Homo sapiens: one gene and its partners. The protein of the gene in region 3 interacts with the protein of the main gene of each other region in a pairwise test. Each region holds a gene or a part of one and is shown on either strand. Other genes may lie near its edges.

Region 1 (8,060 bases), on a different chromosome or scaffold from region 3:
GAACAAAACAAACTAACGGCAGTCTTAATAACCTAAATAAATCCAGGTATCCTTTATTTGTATGAAAAGAAATAGGAAAACGAATTAGGCAAACCAAGAATTAAACAACTTTTACATTTCTGTTTTTCCTTTTCTTTCTCTTCATATTATGATGTCAACTATTTTACTGTGGAGTTAAGATTCATATGAAAATCAATTCTCTGTTACCATGTTATCTAGTTCTCAATTACAAAGAAAATGTGTTGTATGACTTTGTTTTATTAATTCCCAAACCGTAACTTTCAGATTGGTTAAACAGCCATGAATGTGAGAGCTATGTTATTGATAATTGTATAATCTGAAGCAAAATAAACCTTCACTTAACAGGAACAATGTTGATAACTGACAGAGATAAAACATAAATCTGCAAGTTACTCATGTGTAACAAAAGAAAGATACATATCTTGTTCCCTCCAGCCTCTACTATACTGCACTACTTAGAAAGCTCACTACTCTCTTCTAACATAAAGTGAAAATTCTACTTCAGACCTCCCTAGAAATGGGAGGATCTGTAGGATATGGCCCCATAAGGTACCCTGGCCAAGGAAATAGTGCCAGCCCTGCCTTAAGCTCTCAGTCTCAATGCTCTCTCTACCTCATCTATCAAAGCGTCTTCATACAGATGTGGGTATAAACCGGGACTGGTGTTACTGCTGTCGGCCAAAACACGCAGGACTCTCATCTTGGTGGTTTCAGCATAGGCTCGTGGACCCCACAGGAACTCATAGCATGGAGGATCACTGTTGCACACCTGCCGGTAAACCACGTACTTATCTTGCACCAAATCTTCAGTAATGATCTTCCGAGCATCCCCATAGATTGAATGCAGGATCCCATCATATATCCCCAACAGACCCAGGAACTCCCAGACCTCCTCTTCAGTGGCACAGTTGCCGTTCATGAAGATCACAACCAGGAGCGACATCAGGAGACCCGACTTCGGCAGCGCATTATCACCACTCAGAATTCCTTCACTGGGGAGGCCTAGCTTGCTGACAAGGGTGTAGGACTCGCCGCTGGAATCCATTTCTTTCAATTCAACGCCAAAGGCCACCACCAAATGTTGGGAGGTTCTGTTGAGGATCTGAGGGAAGTAGGGCTTGTACTCTCTGCGGACACACTTCAGCATGTCTGCCTTCAAAATGGACTCTTTCTTCTCAAACTTCTTCTGCAGGAATTGCGCCAACGTGCACGCCTTCTTCTTTACAGCATCTTTGCTTAAGCGCTTAAAAATGATGGCTTTCTGTGAGGCGCTTACACTTTCCTCATCTTCACCCTCGGCAGCCACATCATATTTTGAGCCTGAAACACCTGCATCAGGCGAGCCAGTGGGTGAAGCTCCCTGAGACTCCTGAGGAACGGAGACATCATGGGAAGTGCTTGGACTTTTCTCATCTTGGCCGTTGGCAGCCACATCATATTTTGAGCCTGAAACACCTGCATCAGGAGAGCCAGTGGGTGAAGCTCCCTGAGACTCCTGAGGAACGGAGGCATCACGGGAGGTGCTTGGACTTTTCTCATCTTGGCCGTTGGCAGCCACATCGGATTTTGAATATGAAACAACTGCATCAGGAGACCCAGTGGGTGACACTCCCTGAGACTCCTGAGGAATGGAGGCATCAGAAGACCTACGACAATCACCCAGACAAGCGCGAGAAGAGGATGAGGAAGAGTGGGACTCTTCCTGCTTCTCTGCAGTGGCCTGGGGACCCGTGAGACCCTGTGGCTGACCATTGGTCTCTTGGCGTTTCTCACAGGTACGGAGCTTACTCTTGTGACCCCGAGGCATGATGGCTGTGGCCTGTGACAGCAGGTAGGAGTGTGGGTAGGAAGACTAGGAAGGCTGGCACCTGGATGGGAGAGAGTGACGTCACGTCAATATCTTCAGCAGAGAGCGACCATCTTGGCTTTAACTAGGGCCCCTTCTGCAGGTTTCCGCAGAACAGCTGCTCTAGGAACCCACAGGACTCCTTTTCTCCTGGTCAGTTTGTCTCCTTCAAACTCAGGAGGAAGTTAGAGTATTAGACTATAGCATGACAGCCCATTTTGGGGCTTACTGAGGTGACAGCAGGGGCTGGCAGTGGGGGCCCCTCTGTTCAGGGGTTGGATCCTCTCTGTTTACATTCAGGATCATCATTAAAACTGGAAACCATCATTCTCAGCAAACTATCGCAAGGACAAAAAACCAAACACCGCATGTTCTCACTCATAGGTGGGAAGTTAACAGTGAGAACACATGGACACAGGAAGGGGAACATCACACTCCGAGGACTGTTGTGGGGTGGGGGGAGGGGGGAGGGATAGCATTAGGAGATATACCTAGTGCTAAATGACGAGTTAATGGGTGCAGCACACCAGCATGGCACATGTATACATATGTAACAAACCTGCACATTGTGCACATGTACCCTAAAACTTAAAGTATAATAAAAAAAAAATTGTTGACAAGACCCAGAGGCCCATTTCCTTGTGCCACTCTGAAATTGACAGTAGGAATTTTAACCCGGAGGAAATAAGGAAGCACTTCTGCCCAACACTTCATTCCGGGGACACCCAGACCACCTAGGGCTGACAACAGCGGAGGCATTTGAGTGCTCTTCCAGTTATAGTGAGAATGCTCCTCACAGTAATTAGACTCCTCACCCTGACTCTTCCCACAACCTGGAAATCACCCTCACTGACCTGCTGCCATCTCCTTACAACCAGGGGCCTACCTCTCTGACTCTCACAGGGACAAAGTGAGAATGCACCTCAGTCTCTAGAGACCTGCCCGGACCCCCAGGCTAACGTCAAGGGCAGAGTTCGGTGCAACCCGTTACGGGACATGGAATCCCCTCCCTCAATTCTAAGGAGGGTCCTCTTAACTATGTAGGGCCTGAGATTTCTCCCTCTACTGACCTGGGTCCACAAGCCTTGGACCGAGGCCTTCATGTTCTTCAACACGACGGAAAAAAATGAATGGACTTTGGGCCTAACAGCCATGTTTGGGGACTCCTCAGGGACCAGGTCGGGGCAGGTTGGGGCAGGGCTCTGTGGAGCCGCCTTTCTTCGGGGGAAGGGGGTTGAAGTTGTCGGGGAATGCCCCCCGTTCTAGGTCAGGATACCCACCAAGACAGCTGAGAAGATCTGGGACGCCTCCTTCCGCTGACGTGACAGCACTTTTCAGGCTCAGGCGACCGGCTCAGACCCCTTTATTAGGTGGAAGTCAAGAGGAACCACTTCCGGCCACGCCCACCTGGCGCTCCCTGCGTAACAGTAGCTGCAGGGCTCTGTTACTCCCCCTTGTGTTCTGTGGGTGCAGCAGATTCCAGGGAACTCACGTAAAGTTCTTTCAGGGGCTCTTCGCGGACCCTTGGACTTCTCTATCTGTTGAGCTGAATCAGTCAACCGGAGATAGAGGCTCTCATTCCCTGAGAGTCCAGAGTTGGAAGTAAGGTGCAGCCTGAGCTCGGGAGCCATGCCGGGACCTTCCAAGACTGACAGTAGGGGTGGAGCTCTGTGAGACCCCCTTTTTGGAATGGACTTTGCCCTCAGCCCTCACTCAGTGTCGTCGCTTCATTCTTGCCATGTCCCCTCTACTGACTTGAGGACACCCTCTCAGACTAGACTTCAACTTCCTGAGACTCCTCATGTGCAATTCAGTTACACCTCACCTGGCCACTACTGCCTGGGGCCTCCTAAACCTGGCTGCTGCTATTAAGTTGTGATGCAAGATCGGGGAATGAAGGGAGATTTGGGGGGCACTCTTGTCTCTTCTGATATGTGGAGCCCCTCAGTCCTCACTCAGGGTCCTCACATTGACTGCTGGCAGGGTCTCAGTTTTCTCCATTTTCTGATGTAAATTCATCCCCTTCCTCTGACTAGATCCTGTAAAATTCATAAGGAGAAAGTGAGAAGACTTCTTAGCCTGATAGCTATGTCTGGGACTTCTCTCTTGGCTGACATCAGTGTCTGTATTCAACACCTTCATGAATGAATTTCTACCATTATCTTGTGTGACTCACTGCAATATTTGCTATCCTAATTTAGTCCATTCTTTATATTATATTAAAATAATACGAATTTAAAGGCCAGTCCACTTCCACTAAAGAAGTTTCAGGTAGTTATTAGCACAGTGTCTGGATTCATACTTCTTCAGCCTACCCAGATGTTTTTGCTGTGGCAATATTACCCCATGGAACTGGCACATAGGGTCCAAGTTTCTGACTGAATTTCCTTTAGTGAAGCAGAAAAAAAAATGCATTGTCCAATGGCACAGTGAAAGAAGCAAAGACCAAAGTTTTAAAGCTTTTCCTCTAGCCAATTCCGTTATCTGCGTCTGTTGTAGGCCACAGACCTGTCTCTACTTCAGCTCATGCCCCTACCTGCCCACACACCCATTCTTGTTCAATACAAACTGACCATCTCTCAAGGTTCGCATTTTTGTTGTTTTGCTGTTGTTAATACTGCTTTTTTTTTAAAAAAAAATTCTTCCTTTAACTTTTCTATGGTTGAGTTTGGTCATGGGAAAGAACCACCCGGGTTTGGTTGTCATCTTCACAGCTATGGCTAAGGCAATGAATCTGTAAAAAATTTAAGGAGAATCAATAACTTTACAATATCTCCTCCACAGTAAATAAACATAGTACACTGCTTTATTGGAGATTTATTTTTCCTAAGTCTTTCAGTAAATTTTTATAGCTGTCTCCTTAATGAACATGTACATTTCTATTTGGTTTTCTGTTAGATATATTTTGGATATTGTTGCTGTTGTGAAAGGCATATTTCACATTACATATTATAATTAGTTATTGATTTTGTGTGACTATACTCCTGACTTACCTATGGTGATCTTTTGTACACACGTTTTCTTTATTTCCTTATACATTTAAATATTTTTGCACCAATTACGTTGTTTTATTTTTAAATTAGGAGATTATATTATCACAATTATCTCCTTTTGTTATTGTTACCTCTAATTTACTCGGTATTATTATTATAGTTGTGAACTATAGATGTATTTTCATCCAGTTGTCAGCAGTAGGGTTTATACTATACAGGTGTATATTCTTCTGGACTCTATTCGGGATGTTTGTAATGTTTCACATTTAGTATGTCAATTATAGATTTTACAAGATGGAAATTCTCTCCTAATGTAAGTTTGCTAAAAGTTACTATCATACACTGGTATTGAGGGTTTTTTAAGGCTTCTCCTTTACCCCTGCACATGATCACATGCTTTTTCACCATTTTTGGTAACATAGTGATTTCCAATTGATGGTATTTTCTAATATGGTATCATCTTTGCATTTCTTGGATGCAGGCTATTTATTCATTAATTCACTGCTATATTGGATATGCCTATATTGGATATACTATGAATTTATTGAGAATATTTTGTCTCTATGTGAATGAACTGATCTCAAATGTTGTTTTATTGGACTATCTTCATCTGGTCTTTGTGTCAAAGAAAGCAAGCTTGTTAAAATGATGGAGTAATTCTCCCAATCTTTTCGTGTTGTTTGGAAGAGTTTACATGAAGTGGTGATTAGTTTCTTCTTCACCATTTGATGTAATGGGTCTCTAAACCTGGCTGGTCCTAAAACAGTTTGAAGGTACTTTGGGTTTGGACTATAGTTTCATTTTCTACTGTGCATTCAAAGAGTTCTGTATTTTTATGAGTCATTTTCATTTTGCTAAAAATTGTTCCATTTTACTTAGGTTTTCATATTTAAAAGCATGATATTCATAATAAAATCCTGTTATGGAAATTCTCAAATATATGCAGTAGTACAGAGAATAGAATAATAAACTCAATTAGCTAAGATTTGTCACTAATAATCTTCAATTTTTATGAGTAGAATATTGTTCATATTAAAGTTTATTGGCAAGTGCACTCCAGAGGTGATATGGTGCAGTTTCATTAAGAGATATATAATTTCTGTTGTTTCTTTTGTGATGATGTTGGCAGCCATCACTTTTATCCATTAATCTATCATGGGTTGCAAGATGGTAATTCTCTGATTCTAAAATTCTTTTGAGTTTATTACCCGAAATTTTTCAGATAGAACCTTCTCCTTGTCCATCATTTGTTATCTTGAGATACAGATAATACTTGATAACACTTACGGTGTTCTCTATTAGTATTACATCTTTTCTACACCTAAGTTTTGTATAATTTTACTTATCTAATATCATTTATTTCTGCTTTTTTCATTTGTAATTGATGGTACTCATACACATTGTTATATAAATCCTTTCAAAGAACTGGCTTTTACTAGTTGGTTTGACTATTTTCTCATTTATCACTTTTGAATTTATCTTCATTATTCCTACCTTCTTCTTTGTGTTTAATATGCTATTCATTCTCTAGCTTCTTGAATTGTTACAATGTTTCAAACTTTTTTATAGTAAATCTATTTAATGCAATAAATATCCCCATAAGTACTGCTTGGGCTACTTTTCAACAATTATGCTAATAGAACTTTATGTGTAGAGCTCAATTTTTTTACAAGCTGAACATATATCTCTTAATGCTCTATAATATTTTCAATATCTAAATATAAATATATGTATATATTTTGTGTGTGTGTTTATGCATACAAAAACTAGGGAGTGTAAAATTTATTTAGGACAGAAACAGAGAATTATTTAAAGGAGGTTTAAAGAGCCATGGTATGTTGTGTTGTGTTATATTTTACTTAATGATAGAAGACACTTGAGCAAATTTAATTACTAATGACAGAATGGATGTTTTTTTAAGCAGCCATTCTTAAAATGGCTGCTTAAAATTGTTAATGGCTGAAAGAGCTTCAGATGAGAAAATCAATACAAATAATTAGCTAACTGCAAATATTCATGGGTTATTCCAGGAAAACAAACTACTCTAAATATATAACACAGGGATGGAGTTTTAATGGGCATACTTTATTTTGTAGAGCAGTTTCCAAGTTTACAGAAAAATTCGGTGGTAAATACAAAGAATTCTCTTATACCCTCTCATCGGTTCACACACAGTTTCTCCTATTATTATCACACATTAATGTGGTATACTTGTTAAAATTGATGAGCTAATATTGATACATTTTTATTAATTAAAGTTAACCATTTATATTAGAGTTTAATCTTTCTATTATATATCTTATGGGTTTTTTAAAATGAATGACACGTACACACTATAACAGTATCATACAGAACAGTTTCACTATACTAAAAAAAATCCACTGTGTTCCCCTTATTCCCCCATCCCCCCAGAACCCCCCTTTTTTTAACTGTCTCCATAATTTTGCCTTTTCCAGAATGTCATATAGTTAGAATCCTACAGCATGTAACCTTTTCAAATAGGCTACTTTCACTTAGCAATATGCATTTAGGCTCCTGCATGTCTTTTCATAGCTTAATAACACATTGTTTAATCACTAAACAATATTTCATTGTATGCTTGTGGGACACTTAATTCTTGTTGGTTTCTGCTAAGTTTTGACAATTAGGAATAAAGCTGCTTTGAACATTTGTATTCAAGTTTTGGTGTGGACATCAGTTTTCAACCCATTTGACTAAATACCAAGGAGAGTAACTGCTGAATCATATGACGAGAGTATTTTAATTTTGTAAGATATTGACAAACTGTCTTCCAACGAGGCTGTACCATCTTTGCACTGCCATCATTACTGAATGAGAGATTCTATGCCCTACATCCTCTCCAGTATGTGTCTTGTCAGTGTTTTGGATTTTATCCACTCTAATACATGTGTAGTGATATCTGATTGTTGTTTTAATTTGCAGTTCCCTAATGATCCATGATATAAAGCATCTTTTCATCTTTGTGCTTGTTTGTAGAGAATTGATATCATTCCTTCCTAAAGATTTGACAGCATTCACCAGTGAGCTCATTTGGGACTGTTGTTTACTCTTTTGGAAGCTTATCAGTCATTGATTCAATTTCTTTAATAGATATAGGCCTATTAAGATGATCTCAGTCTCCTTGTGTGAGTTTTGGTAGATTGTGTCTTTCAAGGAATTGGTCTGTCTCATCTAGGTTA
Region 2 (7,606 bases), on a different chromosome or scaffold from region 3:
TTTGGTAGACATTATTTTGAATCGTAAATCAGCTTGAAAATACTGCCATTTTGGCAATATTGTCTTCCGATCTATGAATATAAGCTGTCTTTCCATTTATTTAGATTTTCTTTAATTCTTTTAGCAATGTTTTATAATTTGCAGTGTACAAGTTTTGCATGTATTTGGTTAAATTCATTCCTAAGTAGTTTGTACTTTTTGATACTATTTTAAATGGATTTGCCTTATTTTCAGATTGTTCATTGCTAGTGTAACATACAATTGATTTTTGTATATTATCTTGTGTCCTGGCACCTTGCTGGACTTTTTTTTTTTTAAATTAACTGTGAACATGTATGTTGTTTTGTTAAAAAAAATGAGATTTTTTTTCCTTCACTAAAATAAACTGAAACTGTAGTACAAGATGATCTGACTTGGCTGTTTGGTTGTGAAACCTCCAGTACTACTAAGTTTAGGCCCCTCTCCGGTCTCTTGTCTAGAGGCTGTAGGCCTTGTTGGCAGCTTTCTGGGAAGTGGTGGTGGTGGTGGCAGTGGGGATTGTTAACATGTTAATGCTCATTTAATGTTCCTGATTCACAACACCACCCACACTCTCTATAGTCTAGAGATCCTCGGTTTCACTCCCCAGAGAGTACACCTCCAGTCTAATGCCAGGGTGGGGCGAGGGAAGCCCACTAGTTGCTTGATGGGAGAGGAAGGTTTAGGGTGCTTAGCTGCTTCTTAACTCTTTCAACCCAGGCTTCCTATTTGGATGTCCGTTTTCACCCCTCTTTTCTCTGCCTGATGCCACCAATTTCTAAGTCTTTTGGAGGGGTTGGTGTTAAAATCAGGTTGTTTCCTAGTTTTCCTGGCGACTGACTGAGGATTCCATCTGATAGTCTGTTCAGTTAGTTACTATTGGGCCATCTGCTCTCCAGCTTTTAAAATTCTGTGGCTGTAGTTATTTTCCCCTTTGTTTTTTTATTCTTGTAGATTTATTCTTAAAAAACAATCCTTTTAGTATCTTTTTGAGTGAGTTTTGAGAGATAGTGAAAGTAAAATGTATTTGCTCAAGCTGTCATCTTTACCCAAGACTCTGTAATATTATTTCTGGTGGCAACATGGGTATTTCATTGTATGGATATAGCATGATTTATTTAACTCTTTCCCTACAGTTGGATGTTGGGTGCCCATTAAGGTTGCTTAGAGTTTTCCCACCACTATAAACATAAACTCTGTGATTAACATTCTTGCAACTAAATTTTTCAGCATTTCCTTGAGTAAATCCTTAGGATAATTTATTTACATTGGAATCTAGGTCAGAAAATATGTGAATGTATATTGGCAAAGTGCTTTTGATGCATAGTGCTGAATTTCTTCTAGAAGTGAACAGTTTCAGTTTCCAACTTCAGTATATAAATGTGCTCTTTTCCCCTCATATTTGCTAATGCTGAATGGGCAGCAACTTGTATCTTCCCTGCTATTTCTCAAAGCAGTTGACATATTTTTGCATTTAATTATTGGCCATTTATAAAAATTCGTTTGTAAATGTTCATTTTTGTGTCAGTTTTCCTAATTGAATGTTGTACTTTTTTTTTTTGTTTTTGGGAGACAGGGTCTTGCTCTGTCACCCAGCCTGGAGTGCAGTGGCACAATCACGGCTCACTGCAGCCTCAACCACCAGGCTTAGGTGATACCCCCACTTTTGGCCTCTTGGGTAGCTGGGACTACAGACGCACACCACCACCCCCAGCTAATTTTTAGTAGTTTTTGTAGAGACATAGTTTCACCATGTTGACCAGGCTGGTCTCAAACTCCTGAGCTCAAGCAATCTGCCCCCCTTGGCGTGCCAAAGTGCTGGGATTACAGGTTTGAGCCATTGTGCCTGGCTGAGTGTTGCATCTTTTAAATAAATCTTATTAAAAAAGATAAACTAAAAAAATTTATGTTAAAATTGTTACTCCTATTTTGTATATGCTGAAATATCTTCTAGTTTACTAGTTGTCTTTTAATTTTGATTATGGCTTTTTAAAAAAATACTACATAAGTTTCCAAATTTTATATAGAAAAATCCATCTACCTTTTATCTTATGGTTTCTATCTTTGATGTCATGCTTAAAAAATCCTTTTCTCCTTAACATTATAGAATGGTTAATCTATGTTTTTTTTATTTTTTATTATTTTATTTTATTTTATTTTTTTTTGAGACAAGGTCTTGCCCTGGCACCCAGGCTGGAGTACAGTGGCATGATCATGGCTCATTGTGGTGTCAAACTCCTGGGCTCAAGCAATCCTCTTGCTTCAGGCTCCCAAGTAGCTAGGACTACAGGTGTGTGCCACTTCGCCCAGTTAAAATTTTAACATTTTTTATAGAGATAGGCTCTCCCTATTTTACCCAGGCTGGTCCGGAACTCCTGCCTCTGCCTCCCAAAGTATTGGGATTAGAGGTATAAGCCAGCACACCTGCTCTGTTGCTCAGGCTGGAGTGCAGTGGCATGATCATAGTTCACTGTAATCTTGAACTTCTGGGCTCAAGTGATCCTCCCACCTTAGCCTCCCAAGTAGCTAGGACTACAGGCATGTGCCACCATGCCTGGCTAATGTACTGTTTTTTTTTTGTTTGTTTTTTGTTTTTTGTTTTTGAGACAGTCTCGCTCTGTCACCTAGGCTAGAGGACAGTAGCGCAATCTTGGCTCACTGTAACCTTCACCTCCCAGGTTCAAGTGATTCTCGTGCTTCAGCCTCCCGAGTAGCTGGGATTACAGGTACCTGCTACCACACCCGGCTAATTTTTTGTACTTTTAGTAGAGACGGGATTTCGCTATGTTTCCCAGGCTGGTTTCGAACTCCTGAGCTCAGGCAATCTGCCCACCTCTGCCTCCCAAAGTGCTGGGATTATAGGCATGAGCCACCGTGCCTGACTGTCTAATGTACTTCTTTAAAGTATTCGTTGGGCTTTGTTTTTTATGTTTAAAATTTCAACTTATTTGAACTTATTTTGGTGAAAGTATAAGGTAGGCATTTAAGTGTAGAGTTCTACAAATGACTAGATTCCCAGTGCTTTTTTTTTTCATAATCTATTCTTTGCTTGCTGATTTTAAATGACATTTTAATCATAAATCATATGTATATGTGGTATATATAACAGGTTATTATATATACATATATATGATATATATGTACACACACACATACATATACACATATGCCATAGTGAACTTCTGGACTTTATATTTTTTATTGCTATGCTATTGTACTAATATAACTTTATAATACAAATCTAAGTGGGGTTAGTGTACACTCATTGCTCTTATTAATTTTCAAAAACTTTCTAGCTATCCAAGTAACCATTTCTAATTGAAATAATCCAGTGAAAACAATTTTGACTATCACCATTTGAAAACACCCTTGCAAATTTGAAGTTTCAGAGCTAAGGAAATGACTAAGCAGTAAGTTAGTTCCTGTGTTAGTTTTTTACATAGGACTGACAATGAGATTGATTTAAATGACCTGTCATTTGCTTCTGACTGGCATAGCCTAAATCACAGGCATTTCAGAAGGAATATCAGTGATGATGATCGGAAGTCCTTTTTCGTATTTAGTTCTGTTTAAAAATTCTTCTTTTGCTGGGCATTGTGGCTCATGCCTGTAATCCCAGCACTTCGGGAGGCCGAGGCAGGTGGATCACCTGAGGTCAGGAGTTTGAGACCAGCCTGGCCAATGTGGCGAGACCTTGTCTCTACTAAAAATACAAAAATTAGTCGGGCATGATGGTGGGCGCCTGTAATCCAAGCTACTTGGGAGACTCAGTCAGGAGAGTCGCTTGAACCCCAGGGGCGGAGGTTGCAGTGAGCCAAGATTGTGCCTCTTCACTCCAGCCTGGGCAGAAGATCAAAACTCTTTCTCAAAAAAAAAAAAAAAATCCTTCTTTTGCTAAAGCATAGGAACTGTAGGGAGGTTCTCTTTCAGTAGGGCCATGCCATCCTGAGAAAGTATGCAAGTGGTTATTTGCTGTAATGTGTACTGTATCCACATATTCTTCTTTAGCCCATAAACTAAGATATTTTGTATATTATTTTTTATATATCAAGTTTAAAATTTTTTTATTGCACATGTATGCTCATATAAACCTTCAGAATGTTACAGATGTATACAGGATAGACAGTAAAAATCTTTAGTGATTCTGCCTACTAGATATAATTAATGGTTTGGTGTGTATTACTCCAGATTTTTTGTGCTATGATATAACAGTGTTTCATATTATTGGTTATTGTTTTATTATTGTTATGATCATCATTATTATATATATTTTCCTTTTACAAAAACAGGGCTATATTATATATAATTGTACAACTTTTTTTTGCTTTGTAATGTATGTTGTGCATTTTTTTCATGCTAGGAAAAGGTATATATCTTCTTTTTTTTTTCTTTTTAATATGGTGTTTCAGTATATGGTTATTTATTATATTTAACTTACTATCTTTTGATGATCATTTGAGTTGTTTCCTTTTCCTCCTCATCTCCCCCATTACAGACATTTCTACAGTCTTTGTGCATATCGTTTGAGATACTTGAACATAAGATAGATTTCAAGAAATAGATTTGGATCAAAGGATATGAATATTTAAAAGTTGAATAAATATTGCCAACTTATGTACTAAAATGTACCAATTTATACTACAGTAACATTTTATTTCGGTGCCTGATTTTCTATGCTATTATCAGCATTAATTATTAATTTAAAATTTTTTGTCAGTCATTTTAGTTTTTGTTTTAATAATTGATTGAGAATCTTTTTGTGTTTCTTTGTCATTTGAATTTCTTCTATGCCTGCTTGATCATGCTCAGAGTATGGTTTTTATATGTATTTCAAGTACAAGGCATTTTTTTATTGTTGGAAAAGCCTCTTTTTCTCAGTAGTTTTTTTTTTTTTCTTCTTTTTTTCTCTGTAGACTTCCTCTGTGGACATCTCAGTAGTTTTAAGCTTAGTGTCAGTCTCTCTCCCTTTCTATTTTAGGATACCATGGCCAAGCGGAATACAGTGATAGGAACACCATTTTGGATGGCTCCAGAAGTGATTCAGGAAATTGGATACAACTGTGTAGCAGACATCTGGTCCCTGGGAATAACTGCCATAGAAATGGCTGAAGGAAAGCCCCCTTATGCTGATATCCATCCAATGAGGGTAAGAAAGTGGACAGAAAGCCAGTGGGGTGGTTAGTTACTGATCATCATTAAAAAGTGAAGTTCAAGCCAGGTGTTGTGGCTCACACGTGTAATCCCAGCACTTTGGGAGGCTGAGGTGGATGGATCACCAGAGGTCAGGAGTTTGAGACCAACCTGGCCAACATGGTGAAACCTTGTCTCTACTAAAAATACAAAAATTAGCTGGGTGTGGTGGCGTGCGCCTGTAATCCCAGCTGCTTGGGAGACTGAGGCATGAGAATCACTTGAACCCCAGAGGCAGAGGTTGCAGTGAGCTGAGATCGTGACACTGTACTCTAGCCTGGGAGAGAGAGTGAGACTCCATCTCAAAAAAAAAAAAAAAAAAAAAAAAGTTCAATGGCTTACTTGTTTAAGTTGCAAACAATAAATGAATTATGTGTAAATTTGTAAGTGTCGCTATAGATGATACACCTCTACTGACTCTAGTTGTAGTCATTAATTAATTTAAGTGTGTTCCACCCCTCTCCATTCCAGAGGTTGTGTATTGATAGCCCTCTGGCAGGACATAGGCCATAGAAATGCTTAGTTTGATTTGTGCTACTCTCTCTCTCTGTCTGTCACTCACTCATTTTGAATAGTTTAGACAACCACATTTTAACATGTCAACATTCACTAGAGCTGAGTAGTGGTTCAGAGTATGAACTCTCTACTTTATCAGTCTCCATGATTCCCTGTTGTGTCACCAAGTATTAGCTGCCACTTATTACAGTATTTCTCTAATGTTTTTCTTATAATAGTGTTAAGAAGAAAGCAAACTGTATTTTTGAACTCATGTCACTGAAACCCAGCCTTGTTCATTTTTTATCTTTCTTCTGCCTGGCCCCTATAGGTGTTTTGAATTTGTAAGTTTTGGTTTGTAGATCCCCATATCCTCTTCATCTGGAGGCTGTGTACTCTCCAACCCCTGTCTCCTTCTAGAATGTTAAGGGCCCATAGAATGCATCTCCAGTGAAGCTCTTCCAGTGCTCACACCCTAAGCAGTTCCCAGGCTTAACTGTCCCAGAACCCTTCATCACAGCACTGTTGTAATACACCCCCCCGCCAACCCTGCCTTCCTCAGGGGCTCTGTGGTCCTCTCCATCCTTCCTTACCACAGCTCTTCCTCTTCTCTGACTAATTAATTCTCCTATTAAAAGACTTACACAAATTCATGTTCCCAAGGTAAGTCCTCCCTCTTTTTTGGGAGAAGGAGTGAGGAGATTTACTAGTTACAATTTTAGATTTAAAGAATATAATTTAAGCTGCTTATTTGTATAGTGTTTTACTTTTCAAAAAACATGGCTTTTTTAAAATTGGAAATTTAATAAATAATAGTCTTATTTTTGGACATAGTAGAATGTAACTGCAACGTAGTGGGCCAATTTTTAATTTTTCCCCCTCACACATGCGTTGATTTAGCTTACTTTGGAAGTTAATGACCCCATTGTGATTTTTGGGACTTCTGGTTGATGACCTTATTGTGTAGTTGCTGCTGACATCTGGGGGTGGTAATAACTTTTAAGAGGCAGGGAAACTTGACAACTATGGGGTCAAGGTTATCTTTAGGATGTAGATACTCTTAGGTCTCGCCTTTCTACTTTGAAAGGCAATGTACTGTGGTTACCAAAATAATAATAATAAAAAAGCTTGATTGATGTTGTGAGGTTTAGGGAACAAGACCCATATATGAGAGAGGGAAAAGGAGAGAGGGAGATATATCAGGTTCTTTAACCATCAGATGCTTAGACTTTTGTTGGAATTTGGGTGAGCTTCTCAGTGGGTAAGTGAAAAATCATTTACCAAGCTTCAAATGTAATTCCACATGTATTTTTTATTGGAGCATTACTTTTATTTTACCAGATCTTTTTGTTTGTTTGTTTGTTCTAACCAGGCAATCTTCATGATTCCTACAAATCCTCCTCCCACATTCCGAAAACCAGAGCTATGGTCAGATAACTTTACAGATTTTGTGAAACAGTGTCTTGTAAAGAGCCCTGAGCAGAGGGCCACAGCCACTCAGCTCCTGCAGGTATGAATCACCCTGTGATGCCATCTCGCTCCATTTCATTTACTTGCTGACCAAAAGATGCCATGAGGTCACCTACGTGGAGATAGTAAAGAAGTATAAGGCAGGCTGGGTGCAGTGGCTCACGCCTGTAATCGTAGCACTTTGGGAGGCTGAGGCAGGTATATTGCTTGAGCCCAGGAGTTTGAGGCCAGCCAGCATGGTGAAACCATGTCTCTACAAAAAGAATGCAAAAAATTAGCCAGGTGTGGTGGCGCATGCCTGTAGTTCCAGCTACCTGGAAGGCTGAGGTGGGAGGTGGGAGAATCTCTTGATCCCAGGAGGTTGAGGCCGCAGTGAGGCATGATTGTGCTGCTACATTCCAGCCTGAGCAATAGAGTGAGACGCTATCTCGAA
Region 3 (7,606 bases):
TTTGAGAGTCTTCATCTGCCTCTCTCTCTGCTTCTGTATAATGAATAAGATGCCACTGCACTAATTATGGTTCAGAAAGAATGAGAGGTTATCTCAGTATATAAAGAAATTGCCTTGCTGTTTTTAAATGAAAACAAAGGCTGAGATTCAGAGACTTGTTTCGTTCCAAAAGTTGGAAAGCTCAGACTGTGACCCTTGACTGCTGGCTGGAGCTTCTTACTAAAACAACATTTAATGTATTCAGGGACACTGGACAATGCCTTGATTGTTTACAGCTAAGTCTCTTTAAGTAGGTGAAGGCTGCTGGTTATGTAGAAAATTAAGGCTTGTTTCTAATTCATTTCTGTTATTTCTAGCTGATAGGAAGATGTCTTCAGGAAATGCTAAAATTGGGCACCCTGCCCCCAACTTCAAAGCCACAGCTGTTATGCCAGATGGTCAGTTTAAAGATATCAGCCTGTCTGACTACAAAGGTGAGAGAATTAACACTGGGCTCATTGAGATGGAGTTATTTTATATTCTAGGGGTGGCTTGTTAGATTTGTGTCAATGTTGTTTGACTGTAAAATGTTTTGTCTCCTAGGAAGAAGTATTTAGGTTGTTACCTTCATGTTGAAGTGGTGATTATCAAGTGATTACAGGGTATATATCCTAGGACCAAACCACTTCTGGAGAAACCACATGCTTCATTATGTCTGGACATACTAGCTCAATTATCTTTTCAGTATTCCTCGTCTATTTTCTTTCTTTATTTTTATTTTTGAGACAGGGTCTCATTCTGTCACCCAGGCTGGAGTGCAGTGGCGCAGTCATGGCTCACTGCAGCCTCTACCTCTCTGGGCTCAGGTGGTCCTCCTACCTCAGCCTCCCAAGTAGCTGGGACTGTAGGGGCATGCTGCCATGCCTGGCTAATTTTTGTACTTTTTTTTTTTTTTTTTTTTTTTGAGATGGAGTTTTGCTCTTGTTGCCCAGGCTAGAGTGCAATGGCGTGATCTCGGCTCACCACAACCTCCACTGCCCAGGTTCAAGCAATTCTCCTGCCTCAGCCTCCCGAGTAGCTGGGATTACAGGCATGCGCCATCATGCCTGGCTAATTTTTTTTTGTATTTTTAGTAGAGACGGGGTTTCTCCATGGTGGTCAGGCTGGTCTCGAACTCCTGACCTCAGATGATCCGCCCACCTCGGCGTCCCAAAATGCTGGGATTACAGGCATGAGCCACCACGCCTGGCTTAATTTTTGTACTTTTTGTAGAGCTGGGCGCCATGTTGCCCAGGCTGGTCTCCAACTCCTGGGCTCAAGCCCTCTGCCTGCCCTAGCCTTTCAAAGTGCTGGGATAACAGGTGTGAGCCACTGCCTCTGGCCCTCCTCTATTTTATTATTGGAGAAATACTCATTATCTCTTGTTATAAGAGACATTCTACATTTAAAGTCTCAGAGCTCACTCAAATCTCTGGAGCTGTGACACTGCTCGTTCAGTTTGTTTGGGTCACGTATATATCACAGCTGTTAATATTAGGCTGAGGGCTAGGCACTTTCCCTTGCCTGTTTTGACCCCGGAGGAGAGTTGATATTACAGATGGAACAACTCTCCTTTCTGTTGTCATAGTTTTTTTTTTTTTTTTTTTTTTTGAGACGGAGTCTCGCTTTGTCGCCCAGGCTAGAGTGCAGTGGTGCGATCTCAGCTCACTGCAAGCTCCGCCTTCTGGGTTCATGCCATTCTCAGGCCTCAGCCTCTTGAGTAGCTGGGACTACAGGCGCCCGCAACCATGCTTGGCTAATTTTTTTGTATTTTTAGTAGAGACGGGGTTTCACCATGTTTGCCAGGATGGTCTCGATCTCCTGACCTTGTGATCCGCCTGCCTTGGCCTCCCAAAGTTCTGGGATTACAGGCGTGAGCCACTGCGCCCGGCCTCTGTTGTCATAGTTTCATGCAGACACTTGGCAAGTTCTGTTGAGGCTCCTCCTTTCTTTACCTTGTAGTTCCAGAGCAGCTCGATCTCCTGGGACAGTTGAGGATATAGATTCCTTAGAATGCTAACCTGAAACTCAGGTGTCAAGTGTCCTTTTCTCAGTGGTGTAGCATTAGTCCCTGGAGTTAGTTTTTGGTAGAACATTTGACTAGGTTTCCTGACATAATCACACTTTGTTCTTGGGGCTTCTCCCAGCAAACAAGGTAAGTTGCACCATAGGGAGGTGACCTGGGCCCAGGGGTATAAGCAGGAGGTCTAGGAGGAGCTGTTCTCTGCCCTCCAGAGCTTGACCTGCTGAGGCCCCAAAGTGCTTGTTAGGCAAAGCTGGAAGGGTTGTTTAGATGAGTTAGTTTCCAGTGATACTGCAAAGTGGTAAATGTCAAAAAGGGCTGCTTGTTTGGCTTTTTTTTTTTTTTTTTGAGGTGGAATTTTGATCTTGTCGCACAGGCTGTAGTGCAGTGGCATGATCTCAGGTCACTGCGACCTCCATCTCCCCGGTTCAAGTGATTCTCCTGGCTCAGCCTCCCCAGTAGCTGAGATTTCAGGCCCCCGCTGTCACACCCAGCTAATTTTTGTATTTTTAGTAGAGACATGTTTTACCATGTTGGTCAGCCTGGTCTTGAACTCCTGACCTCAGGTGATCCACCCGCCTCGGCCTCCCAAACTGCCTCCCAAACTGCTGGGATTACAGACGTCAGCCACCATGCCACCACACCCAGCCTGTTTGACTTTTCAAACATTGCTGCTACCTGGAAATGAGTGAATATTTGGAATTGTTCTAGTATTTAAGCCTGGTGGGTGTGGCGAGAAGGCTGCCTGGCCAGTTTGAAGATCTGTTATTTCAGTGGTTAATCCCAGTGACTTCATTAAAATTGCAGCTAGAAGTTCTGTTACTCACTAGTACTTTTGTCTTTTCTGTCTCTCTCTGTCTCCCTCTTTCTCTCTCTCTCTCTGTGTATATGTATATATATATTTCTGTTGTTTTGAGACAGTCTTGCTGTGTTGCCCAGGCTGGCCTCAAACTCCTGGGGTCAAGGGATCCTCCCACCTCAGCCTCCCAAGTAGCTGGGACTACAGACACGCACCACTGTGCCTGGCTTAAAATTTTTCCTGTCCTGTCAGGCACGTTAGGAACACATGTGATCACTTAAACCATGCTTGTTCCATTACTATGGTTCATCACGGGAGAAGTGCAAAGGCTGTGACTTCTTATTGGTGTCTTATCTCTACAGCAGAGGAGTACTGCAATTCAGCTTTCTCTGGGTATTGTTAAGCATTGGCATTAGGCCATGCTTATAAGTGCATCCTTGCTTTTGCTATCTTTGGAGAACTTGGTGTTTATGTTAATTTTAGCCACTCAGAAAAGATCAAAATTAGACTGAACAGTGTTTACTCTGTATTGGTAGCTATGACATGGAGGCAGGAGAATAAAGTATGGGATTGGAAGTTTTTTTCATTCAGGTATTCCTAATGCACCAGGTTCTAAAAGTAGCTTCTAGGAGACATCTGTATTGAGCATCTTGGCAGTTAGTGGTTATTGTGTCAGCCATCAACTTGCTTCTTTTTGTATAGGAAAATATAAAGCAAGGAAGTCTGTGTCAAATGCTAACCATGACTCCGATTTTCCCCCCAGGAAAATATGTTGTGTTCTTCTTTTACCCTCTTGACTTCACCTTTGTGTGCCCCACGGAGATCATTGCTTTCAGTGATAGGGCAGAAGAATTTAAGAAACTCAACTGCCAAGTGATTGGTGCTTCTGTGGATTCTCACTTCTGTCATCTAGCATGGTAAATCTCTTGGTCTATTTGGCATGTGAACTTTTTTTTTTTTTTTTTTTTTTTTGAGATGGAGTCTTGCTTTGTCGCCCAGGCTGGAGTGCAGTGGTGTGATCTCCGCTCACTTCAAGCTCTGCCTCCCAGTTTCACGCCATTCTCCTGCCTCAGCCTCCTGAGTAGCTGGGACTACAGGCGCCTGCCACCATACCTGGCTAATTTTTTGTATTTTCAGTAGAGACGGTGTTTCACCGTGTTAGTCAGGATGTTCTTGATCTCCTGACCTCGTGATCTGCCCACCTCAGCCTCCCAAAGTGCTGGGATTACAGGTGTGAGCCACTGCACCTGGCTGGCATGTGAACTTTTAAAACAGCAACTGGGAAGCTTTGGCAATAGACTTTCAAGTATTGCCTTCTCATTGAAGGGAGTGCAAAGTCTGACTTTCTCTTATTGCTCTCATGACCTGGCAGCAGAGAAGAAGCAGCTTCAATTGCAGTTGAGTGTACCCTAGTGACCTACCTTAACTGTTCTCAGCATTCACTTTATTGCTGGAAAACGGAAAAAAAACAGTCTTTTTGGAAAGTTAGATTAGGAATATGGGAAAGGGGAAAGAGGAATGCGTACAGTCAAGTCAAGAGTTTGAATGTAACTGTATGTTTGCCTTTTGCCATAGGGTCAATACACCTAAGAAACAAGGAGGACTGGGACCCATGAACATTCCTTTGGTATCAGACCCGAAGCGCACCATTGCTCAGGATTATGGGGTCTTAAAGGCTGATGAAGGCATCTCGTTCAGGTATGTCATCAGGACAAGTATCCAGTTGGCTGAAAGCCTTTTATTTGGAGAGATCTAGAGCCCTGATCTGTAGAGACTCCTTGTCATTTCATTCCTTTATGCAGGGGCCTCCTCACTAAGGCCAGGCCAGTAGGAGTGTGGAGACCAGTCCATTTCCTTCAGGCTTCAAGCCTCTGTATTCTAACAAAGCACATCTCTAAACCTGTATTGCTTTTCCTTTCATCTCTTTTCCCAGGGGCCTTTTTATCATTGATGATAAGGGTATTCTTCGGCAGATCACTGTAAATGACCTCCCTGTTGGCCGCTCTGTGGATGAGACTTTGAGACTAGTTCAGGCCTTCCAGTTCACTGACAAACATGGGGAAGGTAAGCCATCTGTCTGATAACAGGACAACAGAGTGGTGGTATGAAGGGGTGGGTTGCCCCTTCACACCTGTGGGTGTTTCTCGTTAGGTGGAATGAGAGACTTGGAAAAAGACACGTAGACAAAGTATAGAGAAAGAAATAAGGGGGCCCAGGGGACCAGTGTTCAGCATACAGAGGATCCCGCCGGCCTCTGAGTTCCCTTAGTATTTATTGATCATTCTTGGGTGTTTCTCGGAGAGGGGGATGTGGCAGGGTCATAGGATAATAGTGGAGAGAAGGTCAGCAGATAAACACGTGAACAAAGGTCTCTGCATCATGAACAAGGTAAAGAATTAAGTGCTGTGCTTTAGATGTGCATACACATAAACATCTCAATGCCTTAAAGAGCAGTATTGCTGCCCGCATGTCCCACCTCCACCCCTGAGGCGGTTTTCCCCTGTCTCAGTAGATGGAACATACAATTGGGTTTTACACTGAGACATTCCATTGCCCAGGGACTGGCTGGAGACAGATGCCTTCCTCTTGTCTCAACTGCAAAGAGGCGTTCCTTCCTCTTTTACTAATCCTCCTTAGCACAGGGTGTCAGGCTGGGGGACCCCGGTCAGGTCTTTCCCTTCCCACGAGGCCATATTTCAGACTATCACATGGGGAGAAACCTTGGACAATACCTGGGTTTCCTAGGCAGAGGTCCCTGTGGCCTTCCGCAGTGTTTGTGTCCCCGGATACTTGAGATTAGGGAGTGGTGATGACTCTTAAAACGAGCATGCTGCCTTCAAGCATTTGTTTTAACAAAGCATATCTTGCACAGCCCTTAATCCATTTAACCCTGAGTTGACACAGCACATGTTTCAGGGAGCACAGGGTTGGGGATAAGGTTACAGATTAACAGCATCTCAAGGCAGAAGAATTTTTCTTAGTACAGAACAAAATGGAGTCTCCTCTGTCTACTTCTTTCTACACAGAGACAGTAACAATCTGATCTCTCTTTTCCCCACAGTGGTAGAATGGGAAAGATAGTAGGAACAGAAGCTACCAAATAAGAAAATGGGTATCTCTCTTCATAAATTGAAGCCCCTGGATTACAGTGTGTTGTGAGGGTGAGGGTAATGGAAAAGCTTGGGAAGGAGAATATAAAGGCTTTTTATTCAAAGTATACATACTCCTCTCTTCTGTCCTGCTCATTTAGAATCAGTCACTCCCAAAGATCTAACTTACTGAATGTAGGATGATCTCACAGATGTATTAGGGCAAAACAAAATGGTTGGGAATCACCTCTAGAGATAAAGCATGCCATTTTTTAAATAACTTTATTGAGAGAAGAGGTTAATCCATATAGTTCATATTTTTATTTATTTATTTATTTTTTGCAAGATGGAGTCTTGCTCTGTTGCCCAGGCTGGAGTGCAGTGGCGCAGTCTTGGCTCACTGCAACCTCCGCCTCCCCTGAGCCATTGCGCCCAGCCCAGACTAGCTTTCTAAGGCCTATTTCAGCTCTGATCTTGTAATTTAAAGGAAATGAAGTTATTAGAGTCTGGATTAGTGGTGTATGTTTGGGAAGACCCAAAGGTGCTAGCTTGGCTAGCACCAAGTAATCTTTTTACAGGGATTAGAGTCTGATTATATAGGGATCAGTGAGCACTGATAACCAAGAGGTACCCTTTGCAGAAGGATGTGTGGGCAGTTAGCCTGGACAGATGACACATGGCTCAGCTGACACCTGCTGAGACTGCCCCCTTGTGGGAGATGAGGTTCAGCATTAAGAAGGAGGCAGCAGTGGCAAAGTAGGCCCTTTAACTGGACTTTCCTAGGAACCTACATATAGGTTAGTCTCCTGAACCCAGGCTTTCATAACTCAGAAGCTTGCTTCTTCAGACTCTGTTGGTCTCTGCTGCTTCCCATCCCACTGGAACATGTACAGCCTCTTAAATAGGTACCATTTAAGAGCCAATGAATGCCAAACACTTTTTTTTTTTGAGACAGAGTCTTGTTTTGTCGCCCAGACTGGAGTGCAGTGGTGTGATCTCAGCTCACTGCAGCCTCCACCTCCTGGGTTCAAGTGATTCTCTTGCCTCAGCCTCCTGAGTAGCTAGGACTACAGGGGTCCACCACCACGCCCCACTATTTTTGTATAGTCCCAGCTACTCGGGAGGCTGAGGCAGGAGAATGGCATGAACCCCGGAGGTGGAGCTTGCAGTGAGCTGAGATCGCGCCACTGCACTCCAGCCTGGGCGACAATGTGAGACTGTCTCAAAAATTAGCCAGGTGTGGTGGTGGGCGCCTGTAATCCTAGCTATTTGGGAGGCTGATGCAGGAGAATCGCTTGAACCCGGGAGACCGAGGTTGCAGTGAGACGGAGGTGGAGATTGCGCCACCGTACTCCAGCCTGGGCAACAGAGGGAGACTCCATCTCAAAAAAAAAAAAAAAAAAAAAAAAAAAGAAAAATAAGAGATTAGTCCCCTTGCCTCATTTTCTTCAGGCTAGCCTGAGGCACATTCTTAGGCATTGTCAGGAAAAGGTTGAAGGCTGTGCTTTCTGTATAAATCTATGAAAAATTTCAAACTCTGCCTTTTGCTTACCAAGGGGTAGATGGCAGTTACTTAATGAAACAAGCGGGGGCTTCTGTTAAGTTCTTGATCCTTTATAAGGTTCAGGCTATCCAGTTTGGTAGAGTTAGAAGAATGCTGAGAAGGCAGACTGAGTT
Region 4 (7,482 bases), on a different chromosome or scaffold from region 3:
TTTTTTCAGAGATGGGGTCTCGCTATGTTGCCCAGAGTGGTCTCAAACTCTGCCTCAAGTGAGCCTCCCACCTTGGCCTGCCTAGGCTGGAGTACAATGGCACTATCTAGGCTCACTGCAACCTCCACCTCCCGGGTTCAAGTGATTCTCCTGCCTCAGCCTCCCGAGTCGCTGGGATTACAGGCGCCTGCCATCACGTCCAGGTAATATTTGTATTTTTAATAGAGACAGGGTCTCACCATGTTGGCCAGGCTGGTCTTGAACTCCTGACCTCAGGTGATCCACCTGCCTCGGCCTCCCAAAGTGCTAGGATTACAGGCATGAGCCACCACGCCCAGCCGGCTTTTTTTTTTTTTTTAACTAGTCAAGGACAGTAGTGAAAAAGGGAGGGGAGAAAAATTTTCTGCAATTTCTTTTTTTTTTTTTTGAGACAGAGTCTCGCTCTGTCACCCAAGCTGGAGTGCAGTGGTGCAATCTCGACTCGCTGCAACCTCCACCTCCCAGGTTCAAGCAATTCTCAGGCCTCAACCACCCGAATAGCCGGAACTACAGCCGCCTACCACCATGCCTGGCTAATTTTATTATTTTTAGTAGAGACGAGGTTTCACCATGTTGGGCAGGCTGGTCTCAAACTCCTCACCTCAAGTGATCCGCCCAACTTCACTTCCCAAAGTGTTGGGATCACAGGTACGAGCCAGCTCACCCAGCCTGTTTTCAGCAATTTCTTTCCCGCCATGCAGCCCTCCTGCAGTTGCCTCAAGTTACTTTCAAGATGTGACTGTTGAGCAGTTTCCTGCTAATAGAGGGTCAGAATGATCACACTTCTCTCAGCCCCTACACAGCAAGCCAGATCTCCATTTGGCTGTTTTCTCTTTCTGGCAAAAATTGTTCAAATGAGCTAGAGTCAAATATAAGTATTCACAAAACACTGGGGTCATTTAAAAAAATCATTTGCTGAAATTGAAGAGTTTATGGTGCCAAGTAATATATTTGAAAAGAAAATTTGCCCAAGTCAATGGATTTCAAAACACTTGACTTATAACCACAGGAAGAAATATATGTGGGATCTAGTACATTCATACATACATAAATCTAAAACATACCTGGGAGTGGTGGCGCGTGCCTGTAATCCCAGCTACTCAGGGGGCTGAGGCAGGAGAATCGCTTGAACCTGGGAGCCAGAGGTTGCAGTGAGCCGAGATGGTGCCACTGCACTCCAGCCTGGACAACACAGCGAGATTCATTCTCAAAAAATAATAAAATAAAATAAAATAAAATAAAATAAAATAAAATAAAATAAAAATAAAATAAAAGCTTCACAAAATAATACTCACCTTTACTGTGATTCGCCTTTATATATGATTTTTCTTTTCTATTCTTATTTCATTTTAAATAAAGTTGTTCACTATTCACTAAATTGTTTCTCAACCGTCTGTTTATTCTCATTGGTTGGGTGTTCAAGATCTTTTCTTTTCAGAGCCCGCAATTTTATCAATAAAATTTTTGTTGTTGTTTGTAGTTTGAGACAGAGTCTCGCTCTGCTGCCCAGGCTGGAGTGCAGTGGCGCAATCTCGGCTCACTGCAACCTCCGTCTCCCAGGTTCAAGCGATTCTCTTGCCTTAGCCTCCTGAGTAGCTGGGATTACAGGCAACCGCCAACAGGCTCGGCTAATTTTTGTATTTTTAGTAGAGACGAGGTTTCACCATGTTGGCCAGGCTGGTCTCAAACTACTGACCTCAAGTGATCCACCTGCCTCGGCCTCCCAAAGTGCTGGGATTACAGGCGTGAGCCACCGCGCCCGGCCAAAGGCAAGATTTTAATCTAGGGTGCCATGACTCTTCAGTACTTTTTTTCACCACGACTATATTTTTATAAAACTTAAAGAACTGTTTCGACCTGAATATGAGATTGGGCAGTTGAGAGTAATGTTTGAGAGTACTGCATGGGTCAATGATAATATTTCTGAATAGTTTGGAAGTATTAAAACTGAAGAAAATAATTATACTTGCCGGGTGCAGTGGCTCACGCCCGTAATCCCAGCACTTTGGGAGGCCGAGGCGGGCAGATCGCCTGAGCTCAGGAGTTTGAGACCAGCCTGGCCAACATGGTGAAACCCTGTCTCTACTAAAAATACAAAAAAATTGCCTGGGCGTGGTGGCAGGCACCTGTAATCCCAGCTACTTAGGAGGCTGAGGCAGGAGAATCGCTTGAACCCGGGAGTCAGAGGTTGCAGTGAGCCGAGATCATGCCACTGCACTCCAGCCTGGGCAACAGAGCAAGACCCCATCTGGGCGGGGCGGGGTAGAAAATAATTATACTGTAATAATCTGGAAAAAAAATGTTCACACAGTATTAATGTGTGATAATCATCTCATACATTCCAGAAATGAGGTTTGAGAGCCTTCACTGACCATGTGTCATATCCATTTATTTTGGGATCCCTTTCACCCCATTTTTAACTTCCTCCCAGTTGCCCAATGTCCTCTGGAGTTTTCCATCCAAGACCCCCATCTTTTTTTTTCCCTTTCCCCCCTTTTTAGCTTCCTCCCAGTTGCCCAATGTCCTCTGGAGTTTTCCATCCAAGAACTCCAGCTTCTTTTTTTGGGGGTGGGGGAGGACGGGGTTTCACTCTTGTTGCTCAGGCTGGAGTGCAATGGCGCGATCTCGGCTCACTGCAACCTCCGCTTCCCGGGTTCAAGCGATCCTCCTGCCTCAGCCTCCCGAGTAGCCGGGATTACAGGCGCGTGTCGGGATCACACGTGTGAGCCACCACGCCCAGTCCCCCCATCTTCTTAAAGGGGTTAATTTCTTGGCTCTTGCATTTTGACTTTTCCATCATTCCAATTGCCATCCTGTGTCCTGCTCTTTCCCAAGGGTTGCATTCTTACTCTGCTGAATGCTATATTATTGGATTTATGAACAATTGTTAATGTATTATAATTGTCTGATACTTTGATTTACCAGAATGAACACTTCTATAAGTAGGACTGGATCGAACTTGTTCACAATTGGAATCTTGGTGCAAATCCTAGTTCTAAGGGATACAAAGCACAAAATATTTGCGAAATAGAACAAGCTTTCAGACTTCATACTGGCATGTATCTTTGCCTTATGCCAAAGATGTGACGATGTGACTAAATACGGAAGTTTTGTTTTGCTATTGAGCCAAGGTCTTGCTCTGTCATTCAGGCTGGAGCGCAGTGGTGCAATCATAGCTCAGTGTAACCTCCAACTCCCGGGCTCAAGCGATCCTCCCAGCTCAGCCTCCCTAATAGCTGGGATTACAGGCAGGCACCACCGCACCCAATTAATTTTTAATTTGTGTGTGTGTGTGTGTGTGTAGAGACAGGGTTTCAGTAGTTGCCTCCCAAAGTTCTGGGATTACAGGCATGAGCTACCATGCAGGACCTGTTTTGTTTTAATACTTAGTAATTGGGTGTAAAGTCCTTCAAAAAACAGGTGGGGCAGGTGGGAAACTCCCTTTGTGTGACCCTCTAGCACCAGGGATAAAATTTCAACTTCATCTTAAAGCGACAACATACTTTTCCAAGACCAAGTGCGAAATAGTAAAGGGAAGAGCTAGCTCCGTAGCCGTCCGCCACAGAATGCCACAAGCTTTCAATTATGGGACAAAATTGGAACACATGGAAACCCTGTGCAGACTCCCGTGACATCTTCCCTCCTCTCCAAGTCCCTTCCCACAGACCTTGCGCCCCACACGATTATTCCCCAGGGGCCGAGCAGGACGACTTGGGTCCCACTATCCGGACTCAGCGGTGCCCCCACAAAAGCGTCCCAAAAACTCCAGCTGGGGCAGCCCTGGGGCAGATGCTGAAAAGTTGTCAGAGGCCCTCGGGCAGTCCCGAGATCTACCCCAGGCCAGAGGGCCTGACCCTCCCTAAATGCGACGTTCTCCTACCTTGGTTGATACTCACGTTCCCAGAAAAGGGTGGAACCTAGGCTGGACGAGGCGCAGGGCCAAAGTTTAATTCCTCTAAGCTCCACCCAGCTCCCAGCACCTCTCCAGGCGGCCCCGTGGGGTAGGGCGGAGCCGGGTCCAACGTACTCCGCTTCCCCCGCTCCACCCACCCAGGGCTAGGGAGCGCCCCGAGAGTTGGCCTCCTCCCACGCTGCGCGCGCACCTCCCCGCCCCCACCCCTACCCGCTGGCGTGCCCAGTGGAACGGAGCCTTGTGTCTCCGCCTCAAGTCCCCGGATGCTCACCTCCCCGACTCGCCCCCGCTGTGGCCCCGCCCCCGCGCGGCTCTTCGTGCCACGTCACCGCCTGCGTCGCTTCCGGAGGCGCAGCGGGCGATGACGTAGAGGGACGTGCCCTCTATATGAGGTTGGGGAGCGGCTGAGTCGGCCTTTTCCGCCCGCTCCCCCCTCCCCCCGAGCGCCGCTCCGGCTGCACCGCGCTCGCTCCGAGTTTCAGGCTCGTGCTAAGCTAGCGCCGTCGTCGTCTCCCTTCAGTCGCCATCATGATTATCTACCGGGACCTCATCAGCCGTGAGTCCTCACTGCACTATCCTTACTGCCGCACACGGGGGTCTGGGGTGCGGGTGGGGGCGGGGAAGGCGCAGCCGTCGCGGGCCTAGGGGACGCCGGCGGTCTTAGCCGAGCGCGGAGGGGTCGGTGCCCGGGGCTCGCGCCCAGCTCTGGTGTGCTACGGAGGGGCAGATCCCGCGTGCGGCCGCCGGCGCGGGAAATGCGGGAAATGGCGGCGCCAGGCGCACGGTGATGGGCGGCTCTGTGTATCCGGCAGACGATGAGATGTTCTCCGACATCTACAAGATCCGGGAGATCGCGGACGGGTTGTGCCTGGAGGTGGAGGGGAAGGTGAGTCGGTCGGGCCTGCGCGTGGGGGAGTCCGGGCCGAGCGGGCTCGGGTTTCCTCCGCTCCCCCGCCTGAGGTTGTGCAATCCTCCCCGCCGCCTCCTGGCGGAGGAGACGCTCTTTCCGGGCTTGGGTTTTTCTAGAAAACTGGAGGCGGAGCTGATCCTGGAAATAGGCCCGCCGCCTCGGCGCCCATCCTCCTCCCGGGGTTGTCCGGGACATGATGCTTCCGGCTTAGGAGCCTGGAGTCCTTTCGTGTTTGTCCTGTCCCCACTTACCAACCGGAGGCATCACATGCCCGCAACTGGAAACAACTTTTTAATGACCCCATTTTTTGTTCCGGCCAACAGACAACTCTTTTAAGTTAGGTCGTTTTGAGAAATCCACGGGTCACAACTTTATTCCCAAAATGGTGCTTTTTTTATTTTCAGCAAGAACTAAGAATACTTCTTATCCGTGAACTATTGGCGTGGAAGGTGCTTTGGATGCGTTTGTGTCTTTTGCAATTATACTGCTTTTTCTTAATGCAGATGGTCAGTAGGACAGAAGGTAACATTGATGACTCGCTCATTGGTGGAAATGCCTCCGCTGAAGGCCCCGAGGGCGAAGGTACCGAAAGCACAGTAATCACTGGTGTCGATATTGTCATGAACCATCACCTGCAGGAAACAAGTTTCACAAAAGAAGCCTACAAGAAGTACATCAAAGATTACATGAAATCGTAAGTGATACTGGCAGTACCTAGCTGATGTCTAGAATCTTACAGGATTTAAAGATTGGCTAACTTTTGAGGTTCTTTCGCAGTGGGTATACTTTTGTGAAAGTCCTTGCTTTTTTATTAATGAGTTCACGGAAAAGAGTGGTTGCTTTTCTATAATATGAGCATACTGAAGCCTGCAGTCTGTTTCCGTTTAGAATTAGAATAGTATTTTGAAAATAGTCAACAAGAAATGTAAACATTCTTGAAAGATACCTTCTGTGAACTAGTAATTTCTTAACAGCTGGTTGCCTTTTTCAGTGTTTTCTTTTTTTAAGCTTGGATATTTTTTACTTTAAAAATTGATTTTACTGAAAATTCAATACTTCAACCTGTTAATGAAATGTTGTTTTAGAATCAAAGGGAAACTTGAAGAACAGAGACCAGAAAGAGTAAAACCTTTTATGACAGGGGCTGCAGAACAAATCAAGCACATCCTTGCTAATTTCAAAAACTACCAGGTAAATACCTTAAGTATCTGGATCAAAGGATTGTACAATTTTAACTGCAAGAGCAAAAATTAAGTTGATTAATCTTCAATTCTATACTAGTATTCCAGGTGTAGAAAGTGGCTTTCCCAGCTCGCAGGTGTTTCCAAATCTTGTCTTCTGATTGAAAATTTGCTTCCCAGATGACATTTCTCAGTTTTTCTTTTTGTGAATTGCTTAACCACCTAAGTGTTCTTTCAGTTTTTTGCTTACAATTTTAATGTGTCTCATTGCTACTGGTCCTCCTTCTAATGTATCTGAGCTTGTTAATTCTACTTTTGGAAAATGTCAGTGGCTTTCCCTTTCCTCTAATTTTCCAGCTTCATGCATCCCCTGGCCATAAGATACTTCCAGACTGTATGATATATTCTATCACTGTCAGCCTTATGTTCCCTGTGGTTGACTATATAAGCACGCTTTAGGGTTTGGGATTGTATTTAGGATTGAGAGTAAAGGTTTCCTGAAAGCCTAGTGTTCCTGGATTGCTCTGTACGTTATTTTTCTATTTAGGTCACTATTAAGGTGCCTTAATCCAGTGAACAGATGTCTATGATAAGTGAGCATCAGAGCTTTTGGGTACTGAAGTTTTGATTTTTGTGGTGGTCTAAACCTTCCCTTGTACTGTAGTTTGTTTTGAATGGCATGTATTTGTATGTAATAGTCTAATTCTAGGTATTTTGTTTGCTTCCCAAGTTCTTTATTGGTGAAAACATGAATCCAGATGGCATGGTTGCTCTATTGGACTACCGTGAGGATGGTGTGACCCCATATATGATTTTCTTTAAGGATGGTTTAGAAATGGAAAAATGTGTAAGTACAAGGAAGTGGGTTAAAATAAATAATGTAAAAAAGACATTTTAGATGTGATTTGCAATTGTTTTGTGACACTGAGAATGAGTTTTACAGCGTTCTGAAACATGGTTTTAGTTTTCTCTTTGGGGATCAAGAGAATTGTGTTTCATATGTAAAAAATTCTTAGGGTATAAAAAGGCTTAGAATCTTATTTGTGGAAAACGTTGAGTGCAGATGGGGCATAATAAAGTACAGTTTAGGCTGGGTGTGGTGGCTCACACCTGTAATTTCAGCACTTGGGACGCCGAGGTGGGTGCATCACCTGAGGTTGGGAGTTCGAGACCAGCCTGGCCAACATGGCGAAACCCTATCTCTGCTAAAAATACAAAAATTAGCCAGGCATGGCAGCGGGCACCTGTAATCCCAGCTAATCGAGAGCCTGAGGCAGGAAAATCACTTAAACCTGGGAGGGGGGTTGCAGTGAGCAGAGATCCCACCACTGCACTCTATCCTGGGTGACAGAGTGAGGTGCTGTCTCAAAAAAATACAGTAGAGTTTAAATGCTGAAGGAGATCAGAGAACACCATTGATCTTCCTCTAGATATGGCCT

What was found.
Region 1: the proteins of PRDX1 (region 3) and MAGEB6 interact in binary tests that used the Homo sapiens proteins (3 or more experiments, as listed by UniProt).
Region 2: the proteins of PRDX1 (region 3) and STK4 interact in binary tests that used the Homo sapiens proteins (3 or more experiments, as listed by UniProt).
Region 4: the proteins of PRDX1 (region 3) and TPT1 interact in binary tests that used the Homo sapiens proteins (3 or more experiments, as listed by UniProt).

Annotation. Positions count from the first base shown.
Region 1 is NC_000023.11:26,187,615-26,195,674, reverse strand, and holds MAGEB6 (melanoma-associated antigen B6), read right to left. Parts: upstream 3,236-8,060; 5' UTR 3,148-3,235; intron 1,890-3,147; 5' UTR 1,829-1,889; coding exon 605-1,828; 3' UTR 29-604; downstream 1-28.
Region 2 is NC_000020.11:44,990,094-44,997,699, forward strand, and holds part of STK4 (serine/threonine-protein kinase 4), read left to right. Parts: intron 1-4,996; coding exon 4,997-5,164; intron 5,165-7,075; coding exon 7,076-7,213; intron 7,214-7,606. UniProt on the Homo sapiens protein: Stress-activated, pro-apoptotic kinase which, following caspase-cleavage, enters the nucleus and induces chromatin condensation followed by internucleosomal DNA fragmentation.
Region 3 is NC_000001.11:45,511,805-45,519,410, reverse strand, and holds part of PRDX1 (peroxiredoxin-1), read left to right. Parts: intron 1-356; 5' UTR 357-367; coding exon 368-473; intron 474-3,603; coding exon 3,604-3,757; intron 3,758-4,415; coding exon 4,416-4,538; intron 4,539-4,773; coding exon 4,774-4,904; intron 4,905-6,028; exon of another isoform or gene 6,029-7,606. UniProt on the Homo sapiens protein: Thiol-specific peroxidase that catalyzes the reduction of hydrogen peroxide and organic hydroperoxides to water and alcohols, respectively.
Region 4 is NC_000013.11:45,338,068-45,345,549, reverse strand, and holds the start of TPT1 (translationally-controlled tumor protein), read left to right. Parts: upstream 1-4,366; 5' UTR 4,367-4,480; coding exon 4,481-4,508; intron 4,509-4,764; coding exon 4,765-4,838; intron 4,839-5,365; coding exon 5,366-5,556; intron 5,557-5,947; coding exon 5,948-6,053; intron 6,054-6,773; coding exon 6,774-6,890; intron 6,891-7,482. UniProt on the Homo sapiens protein: Involved in calcium binding and microtubule stabilization. Acts as a negative regulator of TSC22D1-mediated apoptosis, via interaction with and destabilization of TSC22D1 protein.